Linked DNA regions of Homo sapiens: region 2 is reported to be linked to region 1. Evidence: microRNA targets listed by miRTarBase, many of them from high-throughput screens and not tested one by one. Region 1 holds a microRNA gene; the other region holds the end of a gene's coding sequence.
What was found. Region 1 holds the annotated microRNA hsa-miR-6856-5p (AAGAGAGGAGCAGUGGUGCUGUGG, at 4,297-4,320, opposite strand). A microRNA usually pairs through its seed, bases 2 to 8, with sites in the 3' UTR of a target mRNA and lowers its output. Matches are read on the target gene's strand: a 7mer-m8 pairs with bases 2 to 8, a 7mer-A1 pairs with bases 2 to 7 and ends in A, and an 8mer does both.

Region 2: the mRNA of PTGR2 is a reported target of hsa-miR-6856-5p. Seed matches in the 3' UTR shown: 7mer-A1 at 5,274-5,280.

The regions. Positions count from the first base shown.
Region 1 is chr9:130,623,622-130,630,621 of GRCh38, reverse strand. It overlaps MIR6856 (microRNA 6856), which reads right to left and starts at 4,325; the gene lies at 4,259-4,325. It overlaps FUBP3 (far upstream element binding protein 3), which reads right to left. Exons shown (of 19, transcript NM_003934.2): 11 at 6,911-7,000; 12 at 4,117-4,258. RefSeq lists a silencer at 566-860.
Region 2 is chr14:73,883,289-73,890,400 of GRCh38, reverse strand. PTGR2 (prostaglandin reductase 2) reads right to left here. Exons shown (of 10, transcript NM_001146154.2): 10 at 4,675-6,300. The coding sequence ends at 6,224. ZNF410 (zinc finger protein 410) reads right to left here and starts at 3,542. Exons shown (of 12, transcript NM_021188.3): 1 at 3,486-3,542. RefSeq lists enhancers at 3,483-3,552, 5,184-5,293 and a silencer at 3,603-3,882.

The sequences.
Region 1 (7,000 bases):
ACAGCACAACACAGGCAGAAGAGTAAGCAGAGACTGCGGCAACTCCTGAGGCTCTGGGGCACTTGGCTCCAGAAGACAACTCGGGGGGATTTTGTGCACGTCGGCACTTGCCCTGACAGTAGAGAAGTTGTCTCTATTTACTCCAAAGTGGTTCCAACTAAACCCAGGGCTCTCTCACTTGCAAAACTAGCTGTTTGGAGTGAAGCTGGACTTTCTCTCAAGGCCAAGCTGAGGCCACAGATGCCATGTGAAACCTCCATGTGAAGGTCGTGAGTGGCCCAGAGACCAGGTCTGGGCTGAGGCCTGTGGGTCTACACCATGGAGCTCACCCTTGGGGGCCAGCTGTGGGGCTCCCGCCCAGCCAGGGATGGCACTGCCCTTCTTAGCACAAGAATGGTGAGCCAAGGGCGCCTCCATGACAATGGGGCCTTCAGCCTGGCTGTGGGCAACTTTCTCCATAGGCCAAACAGATGACCACAGGCCCAACCATGCCTGGAGCCCACTCGGGCCTTCAGTATCCCACCCTGTCACTTCTCAAGTCCCTGCCTCCTCCATGGGGTGACGGTCTACACAGGCAGTGCAAGGATGGGGTGGAGGTCACAAAGACCTGGGTGGAGCCGGGCTAACAAAAATTCAGTTGGTCTCTTTCAAAAACCTGCGGAGAGTCTCAGTCTCTTAATGAAATTTGCGTAATAAAAGCTCCAGCAGCGTAACAATAGTTGGATTCTTCTTCTGAAATTCACAGAACTTGCGGATCTGCTCTGCTCAACTCTGTGGGGGATGGAGTGTTGCTAGGAGGAGCCAGAATACAAGGATAACTTGGAGCACAGTTTGGAAAAGTGGAGAAAAAGGTAATCTGCTCCAAAGCTGGTATAGGGCAGCAGCGAGCCTGGGTGATCAAAAGCAAAGACCGGGGCCAGTGTCGGCCCCTCCTCCATGCCCACAGTCAAAAAAACAGGCCCTAAATGCCATGTGGCACCTCACCAAGACACCGTCCACAATCCTCCAAACACTCCAAGCTTCTCTCTACCCACTGCCAGAAAAGCCCTGCCTCAACAGCCTATCGGGCCAGTAGGGAGGGGACGCTAAAGGCAGACACAAGGGCGTCTTGCAAGGACTCTACAGAGGTCCAGGAATGAAAAAGGCAGGTGGTCCTTCCTGAAGGCAGCAGGGGCTGCCCTTACGGGGGAGAAAAGACGCCGGGAGACATGGCATGCAGATAAGGTCGCATGCAGAAGACGTTGGTTAAGTTTAGGGTGGTTTTAAATTTAAAAAACAACTAACAAAACCAAATGTTGTGCTTGTGATTTCCTTAAGGTCCCGCTGGAGTTTCAGAGAAGCATCCCTGCATTTTCCACCCTGGCCAGACCCGCCTGTCTGGGGACACCGGGCCAGCACCCACAGCTCTGATTTCCTCTGGGCCGGTACAAGCCCCTCCTAGGGGACCTTTACCTCTGCCCTTTACTCGGAGGCCATGGATTTTATCTTCTCTGCACCATGAAAAGCAGGCTCCTAGGCAATGTTTTTTGGGGAGCAATAAAGAATAGAGACTTGGCCAGGCGCGGTGGCTCACGCCTGTAATCCCAGCACTTTGGGAGGCCAAGGCGAGTGGATCACCTGAGGTTGGGAGTTCGAGACCAGCCTGACCAACAGGGAGAAACCCCGTCTCTACTAAAAATACAAAATTAGCCAGGTGTGGTGGCGCATGCCTGTAATCCAAGCTACTCGGGAGGCTGAGGCAGGAGAATCGCTTGAACCCCAGAGGCGGAGGTTGCAGTGAGCCATGATCACGCCACTGCACTCCAGCCTGGGCAACAAAAGCGAAACTCCATCTCAAAAAAATAAAAAAAAATAAAAAAGAATAGAAACCAAAATGGAGACCATTTCCACAGGCACACGTAAGACTCGAGGGAACCCTACCAGCCTCCAACCAGATCCACTTGGTCTGGAGGCAAAAGCACAAGTACACGAGTGTCTGCGACTGAGAATCCTGCAGTCCCCAGACAGCCGAGGCCCCGGCCCTCCCCACTGGGCCCCTCATCCCCAGGCCTTGGGAACATGCTAATAAGGTGAGGAGGCGCCACAAAACCTCGTGGGGCCAGAAGGAGTTAATTTAAGTTCATCTTCCTTCAAAATGAGGTCACTAGCTTGGCACATGGTGGCTGTCTATAGACTCATTCAGCAGCCCGCTCCATTCTTCTACCTGATGGGGGGCAGAAGTGCCCCACCAGTGGCCCCCTGGCTGGACGTGAAATCGTAAAGCAATTAATCAAACCTGCTAAAAGGCCTGGCTGACAAGAGCAGGCTGGCTGAGCTATCTGTCAATGTTGCTGTGTTTATCATGGAAATCCAGCAGGGGCCAGGGAGGCTCTGTGTCTGTCCAGGCCAGAGGCCAAGGAAAGATGGGCCTGGCTGCGTGGGGCTCCTCTCTCCCTTGCCCAGGCGCCCATCTCAAGGAAAAGAGATGTCTCACATGGGCCCTGAGGGGTAGGGGGTGTGTGTGTGTGTGTGTGTGTGCGCGTGCGTGCGTGCGTGCGTGTGTTTAGTGCGGTGTGTGTGTGACATAGAAAGACCCTCCCATATCCGAGACACTAATTAGGCTTCTTTAGGCTGCTATTCAAGCATGGGACACAGACCAGTTACTGCTTCGTTCTCATCACTGTTTTCTAGGAATCACTCAGGATGACTTTGTGGAGGACCAACTACGAGGGGCTGCTCTGTGAGCACCAAGGGCTCACTATGAGAACCTGTCATGGTGAGGCAACAATGCTCAGTCAGGGTTTAGAGACACAAGCAAATGAAAACTTCGCCGACAAAATAGTTTGCAAAAGGCCAAGAAATCTAGATCTAGCTAATCGTCAACCTACAGGCATCAACTAGCTGCAGTCTCACAGCGGTCAGGCTGACGGCCTGGGTAGTGTGGGACTTCTGGCAGCATCTGGTGCAGCCTGCAATATCCCCAAACACTCACCAGCCCGCACACCTGCCGGCAAATGAACACGAACCCATACCAACTCTGAGTGGTTCAGTCTAAAAGACAACACGGTTTCTTGCATTTTGCAAGAGCATAAGCCCACAGTGTCTGTGAGCAGGGACGAGGGCAGCTCCTGGGAGGTGAGTGTCGGGGGGCTCCCACCTGCCCAGCTCTGGAGGTCTCTGCTGGTGAAGCATCCCCAAGTCCTGCCTATCCAATACGAGCGCCCCTCAAGCAGCTAAGGGGTATTTGGTGATCAAAGAAATTTGAGAAACTCTGGAGAGACGACTGTTTTCTCCACATGCTGTCAAATACCTAATGAAGGCAAATACGAAACCCAGTGACAACGGGAGTCCCCCGCTGGCAGCGAGGCCTGGCTCAGAGCCCCACGGAAGCCGAGCCCTGCTGCTACACTGGGAAGGCCCCACAGCCTCGGCCCTGGTCTCAGTAGCCTTTCTGGGTCCCAGGGCTAGCCAAGATGAACTGCTGCCAATGGCTGAGAAATGTGGCTGCTCTCTCCTGGTTCTCAGTGAAGGACAGGAAGGAGCTACAGTAGCCATGAATGAGGGTTTCTTCCTAATGTTCTCCAAAATGCCCAGAAAAAACTAACACATCAATGTTTATTTCCCTCCACAGAGAGTCCGTGACTCACGGTAAATATGCAGAAAGGATAAAAACCATTTTCACATGTTACGCGGATCAAGACCAAATACTCAAACCTGGTAAGGGAAACAAGTGACACACTGTCGAGAAGGAATTTTCACTGAGGATACTGTCTCAACCGTCCCTCTAAGTTCCTTGGAGGTGAGTTAATTACCAATCAGTCGATTGACAAATGCCCCCCATCTTGCGCAAGGTATCTTTTCACCAAGCTAAGCTGCCCTCAACAGGCAGGGAGTTTTACTGCTGTCTCTTCATACTCACCAGAAATAATACACTTTGCTCCTCACAACAGGCCCGTCAGCAGCCTCAGAGAACCATGCCAAGCAGGGTTTCGGCAGAAGGTGGCTACTGCCTCCAGACCGGGCAGCCCCAGCCTGCAGCAGCAAAGGGACCTCACCAAAGGTTCTGGAGGTCCCGTGACCTGCCTTCCCTCAAGCCAAACAGCTGAGGGGGGATGTGAAACCCCAGCTGCCTCTTACCTTTGCCTATGACGAGGCCACACTTATCGGCTGGCACCGTGTATGTTATCTCCTGGACGCCACCAGGGGCTCCCACGCTCCAGTCGCCACGGCCACGACCTCTTCCTCTGGCTGCTGCCAGGCCTCCAAAGCCGTCTCTTTCCTGGAAAGATCACAGGGCTGTAGCGACCTCTGCCACTGCCACAGCACCACTGCTCCTCTCTTTTCCAGGGAGGAGGTTAAGTGACAGGATGTAATCAATGCCACCCATCAGAACCTAGCACCTTTCCACACTTCCCATTCTGAAGGGCTCTTTCAAGCCAGAATTAACACCGATCACAGGTGTATCTGGGGAGGACCTGTGCAGACGAACACACGTGGTTACATAAACAGCTCAAATGTATCCAACAGAAATAGGCAGACACAAACTCCAAGGCTGAAGCCCAGCGGCCTTTCTCCCTGGAGCTTTCCTCACTGGGCCCCGATCTACAGGCATCAAGAACTGCTTTCTCCCTTGCAGCTGAGGCCCCTCTTTCCTGCGGCGGACACATACTGGGCCTATGGGAAGTCAGATATGCACAGCCTGCTGACCCTCCCCAACCAGGCACTGCTATGAGTCACAACACCTGGCACTCCAGTCAGCAAGAAGGATAAACGGATTTTACTCAGTTTTAGAAAACTTCTTGGCTGTTGTGCCCCCAAGCAGCAGCAGCAGTAACAGGTTCAAGAGTGACCATTCAGGGATACTTCAGAAGGGAGGAACAGAGGGAACCTGCCAAGGCCTCCTCCCCATGTGGGGCTGGAGAAGTCTCTGAGGCATTCTCCCACTGTTCACCCAGCAGAGAGAAAAACCTAAATCTAACAGCGGACAGAGGAAGAGCCCTTTCATTGAGACAGCAGCAAGTCTCATTCCAGCCGCTGTCCGCGGAGTCATTTTGGAGCTGCAGTATTTAAACTCTCTTAAATGTGGAGGGTGAACCTGGTCAAGCTAAGAGCTATTTCATGGAAGGGAGAAGCTGCACAGACTTTTCAACACATGAAGAAATGTTGGGCAAAACCTGCTCATGTTGATTAAGAGTAAAGTGAACGTTTACCCAGAATCTAAACCAGCAGAAAGCTGAGACAATTGGAGTGCTTTTCCCCCGCACTCTGCTCTTATGAGACAACTGCCAAGTAAACAAGGCAATTTTAGAATGGATGTTCACACACGCACAGGAGCGCACAGTCAACTTTCTGGGTATGCCACAGATCTCGAAGAAAAGGTTTTCTCCCAAACATCTCGCAGCCTCTGCAGTGCAAGGTTCATAAACTTTTTTTGAGACAGAGTTTTGCTCTTGTTGCCCAGGCGGGAATGCAATGGCAGGATCCTGGCTCACTGCAACCTCCGCTTCCTGGGTTTAAGCAATTCTCCTGCCTCAGCCTCCTGAGTAGCTGAAACTATAGGCATGCGCCACCACGCCCGGCTAATTTTGTATTTTTAGTAGGGACGGGTCTCACCATGTTGGTCTTGAACTCCTGACCTCAGGTGATCCACCTGCCTTGGCATCCCAAAGTGCTAGGATTACAGGCGTGAGCCACCACGTCCAGCTAATTTTGTATTTTCAGCAGAGACAGGGTTTCACCATGTTGGTCAGGCTGGTCTCGAACTCCTGACCTCAGGTGATCCGCTTGCCTCGGCCTCCCAAAATGCTGGGTACAAGAGTGAGCCACCGTGCCTGGCCAAGGTTCATAAACTCTTGCTACAAAAAAAGGATGTTAGAGATCATTTAGAGCAGGGGTGTTCAATCTTTTGGCTTCCCTGGGCCACACTGGAAGAACTGTCTTGGGCCACCCATAAAATACACTAACATTAATGATAGCTGATGAGCTTAAAAACACACACACACACACACACACACACACACACACACACACACAAAATCTTGTAACATTTTAAGAAAGTTTATGAATTTGTGTTGGGCTGCATTCAATGCTGTTCCTGGGCTGCGTGCAGCCCACAGGCTGAACGAGCTTGATTTAGTGGCCGTTTTATAAACTTGTCTAATCTTAAGAATTGCCTGGGTCTCTAGTGAAGACCCAAGACCCTCCCTTGGAAATGCTGATTCAGTAGATCTGGGGTGGGGGCCTACACATTTGTAATTTGAGTAAGAACCACCAGATGGCTCTTAGGGGATCACATAGAGAGCACTGCCTGGTGCAAAGCACCCTGAGTCTGCTGCTGGGAACACCAGACCCAGAGGTTCAAAGGCAGCTCCAAGGTCACATGACTGATGGCAGAGCTGGGACTATAATTTCCAATCTCTTGCTTTATTCTTCCGTTCTGGTCATTCTCAAATGTATCCTCAGTCCTACCATCAGTTATAGGGGTTCCTAGCACTGTCACACAGGCTGGCTCACAGTCCAAAGATGTGCATGAAATCAAGTGCATGAAGGCAGCTTTAGGACTTTGGAGGACCCTGAAGTGTCTTCTACCACTAAGACTGGATTTCACTAACACAGATTAACATTAAATACACTTGATTATTTGAAACTTGGCGACCAATCTCCATGGTATTTCCCCACATGGTTTAAATAGCCAGAAACTTACTGTGTAAAGGCAATCTAGATGGTGAGGTAAATAAAGGCAGAATAATTAATGAGCAGAAAAAAATACCAAGAAGGCAGGAAAGAGGCTGATGTAGAGAAACTGCTGGTTTCCCATAATGTGACTTGAGACGCCTCAGGGTGACAGCTCTATGGTGCTGCACCGAGAGCCCCGGGTAGCACTTTCCACTTCTGCAGCCCAAACACTCACACTCTGCAGAGCTGGACCCACCTGGGCTGTAAGAATCAGCTCGCTGATGATATGCGCTGCATGCTGACACCGATCCGGAGGGCCCATGACCTGGGCAGCTCTTTCTGGACT
Region 2 (7,112 bases), not on the chromosome of region 1:
GCCTGGCCAATATGGCGAAACCCCGTCTCTACTAAAAATACAAAAATTAGCCGGGCATGTGGCGGGTGCCTGTAATCCCAGCTACTCGGGAGGCTGTGGCAGGAGAATCGCTTGAACCCGAGAGATGGAGGTTGCAGTGAGCTGAGACTGCGTCACTGTACTCCAGCCTGGGCGACAGAGCAAGACTCCATCTCAAAAAAAAAAAAAAGTAACTGAATAAATGTTTTTTTGTCCTGTTGGTTTCTCCCTCTCTCTTTCTAAGCTACCTGAAATCCTCATTTTTCATTGTAAAAAAGTAACCATTTAGGCCGGGAGCAGTGGCTCACGCCTGTAATCCCAGCATTTTGGGAGGCCGAGGCAGGCGGAACACAAGGTCAGGAGATTGAGACCATCCTGGCCAACATGGTGCAACTCCGTCTCAACTAAAATACAAAAAATTAGCTAGGTGTGGTGGCATGTGCCTGCAGACCCAGCTACTCAGGAGGCTGAGGTAGGGGAATCGCTTGGACCTAGGAGATGGAGATTGCAGTGAGCCGAGATCGCTCCACTGTACTCCAGCCCGGGCGACAGAGCAAGACTCTGTGTCGAGAAAAAAAAAAAAAAAACTAACCATTTACAAGATATAAATGGAAATGCTCCTTCCAAGTTTCCCACATAAAGTATCATAAATCCCTGACTTTTCTTCCACACATATTTTTCTTATTCAAGCACTGCAACAGTTTCATATGGTTTATCCATCCCTCTATTTAGAGAGGAAGGAACCAAGGCTCAGTATATTACTTAATTACCAAGTTATTAAGTTGCAAAGCCAGGACTCCCACCCACACCAGAAGTATGCAGAAATCATTGGCGTGAATAGTGATTACATCTCTCTAGGTTTGACCCTGAATCTCCATGGCCTAAGAATTCCTTTTCTCAGCCTAGGCAACACAGTGAGACCCTATTTCTTTTTTTTTTTTTTTTTTTTTTGAGACTGAGTCTCGCTCTGTCACGCAGGCTGGAGTGCAGTGGCGCGATCTCAGCCAGTGAGACTCTATTTCTACAAAAAAAAATTTTTCAATTAGCATCACATGGTGGCACATGCCTGTGGTCCTAGCTACTAGGGAGGCTGAGTAGGAGGATTGCTTTAGCCCAGGAGATCGAGGCTGCACTGAACAGTGATCACGCCACTGCACTCCAGCCTGGGTAACAAATGGAGGCTGTCTCAAAAAAAACAAGAATTCCTCTTCCCCAATTCCAGCTTGTCTTAACAAGCCAAGAAATTATCAGATGTTTGTTGTTTAAGTCATCCTTAAGGTTCCTCCAACTTTGAGATTCCAGGATTGTAAAATCTCTGAGGAACCAGACAACTATTTACTGTCCTTTTTATGTTATCTATGACATCTTTTTATTTCAGTGTTTTCACTTCAATAATCTTTAAAAATTAACACGAGCATTTTCTCAAGCACTGGGTATTCATATTATAACTAAGTACTACCATACAATTTTTGTGTCCAAGTTTATGATTTGTATGTGTACGGTATGAATAAAATAAAAAATAGCAGGATGCATTAAGATATGCAACTGAACTCAAAAGAATTTGTACTAGAGCACTCAGTATCTTATCAAGTGTACTGTGGGGATCTCATCTTTAACAGAGCAACGTACTATGTACATTAGCTATAGGTGTAACGGCAAATACACAATTAAACATTCCTATTCCCAATTCCTTACTCAACAGATTTCCAAAACTGCAATGTAAATCTTTTTTAAAAATTAGTTTCACTAAGATATCGTTCACATACCATACTATTGACTCATTTAAAGAGTACAATTAAAATATCTTTAGTTCATTCAGAGTTGTACAAGCAGAACCACGATCAATTTTACAATATTTCATCACCTCACAAGGAAACCCTGTGCCCATTAACGGTCACTTCCCACTTCTAATGTGTTTACTATGAGCTTAAAGGGCTTCCATACAAGCTTCCCAGTAAGCAACTGGTAGGTACTAAATATTTGTATAATGAATGAATGACACTACAAATGATACCTACATTTTTCTCTAGTCATCTCTTCTGAACTCCAAACCTTCATTTCTAACTGCTTGCTAGGTATCTCCACATGTATATCCAACAGCATCTCAAACCTAACAATGTCCAAAATCCAGATTATTATCTTCCTTACCAAACCTGTTCTTCTTGTATTACCTATTTCAATGATCGCCCAATCTTCCTCCCACTCAGCTGCAAATTCTAGGTCTTTAAATCTCTCTCATTCTCCATTTTTAAATAATTCCCGTGATTCTCTGTTCCCAGAATGTTCTCTGTTCCCTACTGTAATGCCCTGTTTAGGTCTCTCAGTAACTTTCTACTATACTATTAAAACAGGCCTCTAACTGGTCACCCCGCGTTTAAAATTCCTCTTTCCAATACATCCTTTATGCAGCCATTCAAGTTATCTTTCCAAAACAAAGAAATGCTTATGTCACTTCTACTCAAAGTTCAGTGCCTCGGAAAAATTGTCATAGCCCTAAAGGTAAACCCCTTCGTTTACAGAAAAACTCCCCAGAGCTAGAGATTCAGCAACTTGCCAAAAATTAGACATCTACTTAGATGCAAAACGTAAAAAACTAGAACTTAAAACTTCTGACTGCTACTTTAGTTGTCTTTTACTCTGCACCACACTAAGAAAAAACCAAGTGCAATTTCTCACTCCCTAACAAAATGCCCGACTTTATTTCCAAATGTTTTTTATTTATTGCAAATATGCTGCGTTGACCTTCGTTCCAACCTAAGTACTAATTCTTAAGTCCCAAGTTAATAATATTTAACTTCCAAATGGTGCCTAAATGCATTTCTGAGCCTCATGATCAAGTGGGATAAACTTTAATAAATTGGATTATCTTGAGAAACTTCAGAAAATAAATTCGACACGAAATGTATGAAGGCCGTAAACAATCCACACACTCCTGCCCCCCGAACTGACAGGCAAAGGAGAAACGGGCGACCCAGCCCAGCCGAGTAGGCAGCTGTCCCTTTTCCAAACCCAGAAAGTAAGTGGTATGAAAGGAGAGGGTAGCTCTGGACTGAAACATTCAGGGCAAGGCCTCCTGGCATCCTCTACCCCACACCACAAAGGCCTCAGAAATAAGGCCCCAAGGTCCGTAGGCAGGCCCCGGCTGCGGGTGCAGTCCAAGAGCCCCCGCCCCGGGGACTCGCTGACTCTGGCTTTCTCAGGACAGTCTGTTCCTATATCCCTACCCCCAAAACCAAGCAAAGGAGCAAGAACATCGCCCCTAAAAACCCGCGAGGGGAAGGGCCAAAGCCGCAGGGCTTCAGACTGGCCGCTCCCGGGCCCGCCAGATCCAGGAGGGATGCCCAAGGAGGGCGGTTTCCTCTCTCGGGGCGAACTCGGCCCCAGGCCCCAAGTAGCCGGTACTGGCCCCCGCCCTCTCGGGTACTACCTAACCGAGGAGGGGTGGCCAGGCCCACCTCGGAGCTCACCTTCCAGTTCCGGGAAGCCGGCCGGCCGTCAGTCGGTCCCGAATTCCGTCCACACACAGCGTCTTCCGGCTCCCGCCGGAAGCAGCTCGAGCGCGGGACAGGAAGTTTGGCTGACCCCCCACGCACACACCCACTCGCTCGCCTCAGTGTCGTGTGGCTGCCGCACTGCTCGGGACCCAGACGTCAAGGGTGCTGGCGGGGCCTCCCCAGGCCCGCGACGCAGGGCTCCGCCCCGGACAGGAGGAGCCGCAGCCGCCCCGCTCCCACTCACTCACTCACTCTCGGCCTTCGGGACTCCTATGTCCGCGAAGCCCGAAAAAACAGGTCAGCTAATTCGTTGACGTCACTGCCACCCCGCAGTAGCGGAGGGAGTAGTTTTTCCCATCAGCGGAGGCGTTGCAATGGAGGCAAACGCGAAAGAAAAGATCACTGCTTAAACATTTATCAAAGGTCTCCATGGAGAGGACCTTCGAAGTTTCACCGCCCGAGAAAGGAACTTGCAGAATCAAGTTTTGCATTATATACGGGACGGGGTATGCAGTGAGTCTGGGTTCCGTGTTGTAATTAGGATGTAAAGAGCTCTTGGATGTCCCGACTGCGGGCTTGAACACTTGACTTCCAAGCTGGATGCCACCTTGTTAAAGCTTTGTGAGTTTGACTGACTTCTTGAAATTACTTATTTTAAAATATTTGCGTGCGGAAGAATGAGAGACTCAACCGTGGGAATTAAAGGAGTTCTCTTTAAAAAGGCATTTTCAAGGTTAAAGATAAGCCTTGATGACAGGTTTGGGTACACAAATTACTAATGGTGATTTAAAATAAAGGAGAAACATTTCAGAGGAAGATAATTCCACTTTAGAAAAGCAGAGTAGGCCGGACTCCGTGGCTCACGCCTTTAATCCCAGCACTTTGGGAGGCTAAGGTGGGCGGATCACGAGGTCAGGAGATCGAGACCATCCTGGGTAACGCCGTGAAAACCCGTCTCTACTAAAAACACAAAAATTAGCCGGGCGTGGTGGCACGCGCCTGTAATCCTAGCTACTCGGGAGGCTGAGGCAGGAGAATCGCTTGAACCCGGGAGGCGGAGGTTGCAGTGAGCCGAGATCGTGCCGCTGCACGCCGGGCGACTGAGCAAGACTCCATCTCAAAAAAGAAAAGAAAAGAAAAAAGCAGAGTATAAGATGCAATCCAGAGTTGAGGATATTTACTTGGAGGTAAAGGTCCAGTGCTCAAGAAAGAGGTCAGAAATACAGATGGAGATTTGGGAGTTAGCAACATACAGAGAAAAGTGAAACCCCCTCAGGCGATGAAATGGTCCAGGAAAAGTAACAAAAAAGGGCCACTCACGAAAACTGGGGAGGCTGATTACCAACACAGTTTGAATCTACTTATTACAAATGTTGCATACAAAAGTATATTGGCAGTGTGTAGACAATCATAAGCCAAAACATTCAGAAACAATAATCTTCAGTTTTACTGTTCTGCGAGGGTTGAGTACAATTAATAAAACAAACTTTTGAGGTACATCAGTAGTTCCTGAACATTCATGTTTACAAACATTTGTTAATTTGCCCAGTCCTGTCATTTTCTGAAACTGTCTTTGTTGTCAATCTGTTTTTGTTTTTTGAGATGGAATTTCACTCTTGTCGCCCAGGCTGGAGTGCAATGGTGCAAGCTCAGCTCACGGCAACCTCCCCCTCCCAGGTTCAAATGATTCTCCAGCCTCAGCCTCCTGAGTAGCTGGGATTACAGGCGTGTGCCACCACGCCCAGCTAATTTTTGTATTTTTAGAGAGATGGGGTTTCACCGTGTTGGCCAGGCTGGTCTTGAACTCCTGACCTCAAGTGATCTGCCCGCCTCTGCCTCCCAAAGTGCTAGGATTACAGGCTTGAGACATCAGGCCCGGCTGTCAATCTTTTTAATCACCTACAAGTGATGTTTACATCTGTTTGCCCTCTCAATCTTTACAACTTGACAGTATGTGCCTGCTAACCTAAAATAAACATATGCTTTTCTCAATATATATGGAGTTTTTAGGCTATACAGTAAATTATTTGGCAAATACAAAGAGATGATCCTCTGGAGTAAATCTTGTCAACTTAACCAACCTAAGTTATTTATCTTCCCATACTAATCCCAACCCAAAACCGCTGGTCTCCTATCCCAAAAACTGTTACACAAGCTCCGAAACCCCCAATCCTGCCCCCAGTCCCTATGTACACATCATACCATTAAGTCTCTTTTCAGTCTACAATGTGAAAAAAAGGCCATCTCAATTCTATTTTTACACCAAGTTTCAGTTTAAGAATCATGTAAAACATTTCCAGTTCAACAAATCTTTACTCAGTGCCTCTCAAGCATTCTATTTTATTTTAAGCATTCTATTTTAAATTAATAAAAGTTATTAATATTAATTTTAAAAAACCTATTGTGTATGATTCATTAATGGTTGTATCAGATCATGTAAAACGTTTCCAGTTTAACAAATCTTTACAAAGTGCCTCTCAAGCGTTCTATTTTAAATTAATAAAAGTAATTACTAAAAGTTATTAATTTTTAAAAACCTATTGTGTATGATCCATTAATGATTGTATCAAATACCCTATGCAACTAAAAATAACACCTATGATCACATTTAAATCAAGAGCTATGTATAGTCTAAGGATTTTTTAACATATCTTTGAAAATATGCAAAATGGAAAAGAAATCTATGATTGCCTTGATGACATTTACAGCAATTACAAAGAGATTTCTTCTGAAATGCAAACTATCTGCTTTCCAATGTTACCTCCTGTCATCATGGACTGGAATGCAGCTGGAAAAAGAGAAAGTAGGTTATCTGAAAAGATAAATGTCACTATCATACTTGTTTCCAAAAGGTACAACATATAAAATTATGTTAAATAACTTTTTCAATGATTTTGAATATTAAGCATAGAAGAAAATGGTCATGAAAAGAAATCTCAAGTAAAAAGTTACACACAAACTAACCCAATTAACATCTTAAAAAAATGTTTTGCCCATACTGGAAAGATTTAATTGGTATCTAACTGGTATGCACATCAATGTTCATTGTTTACAGTATCTGAAGACTAGAGGCAAAAAAAAATGGGAATAAAATGTGAGTGAAGGCCGGGCATGGGGCCTCACGACTGTAATCCCAGCACTTTGGGAGGCCAAGGTGGGTGGATCACTTGAAGTCAGGAGTTTAAGACCAGCCTGACCAACATGGTGAAACCCCATCTCTACTAAAAATACAAAAATCAGCTGGGAGTGGTGGTGTGTGCCTGTAGTCCCAGCTACTCGGGGGGCTAAGGTGGGAGCATCACCTGAACCTGGGAGGTAGAGGCTGCAGTGAGCCATGATCGCACCACTGCACTCCAGCCCGGGTGACAGAGCATGGCCCTGTCTCAAAAATTAAAAAAAGGGCTAGGCACTCACACCTGTAAATTCCAGCACTTTGGGAGGCTGAGGCAGAAGGATCATTTGAGGCCAGGAGTTGCCTGGACAATATAGTGAGACCCTGTTTCTATGGAAAATTAAAAAAAAAAAAAAGGTTGGGCATAGTGGCAGGTAATTGTAGTACCAGCTACTCTGGTGAGAGGATTGCTTGAGCCCATGGGTTCA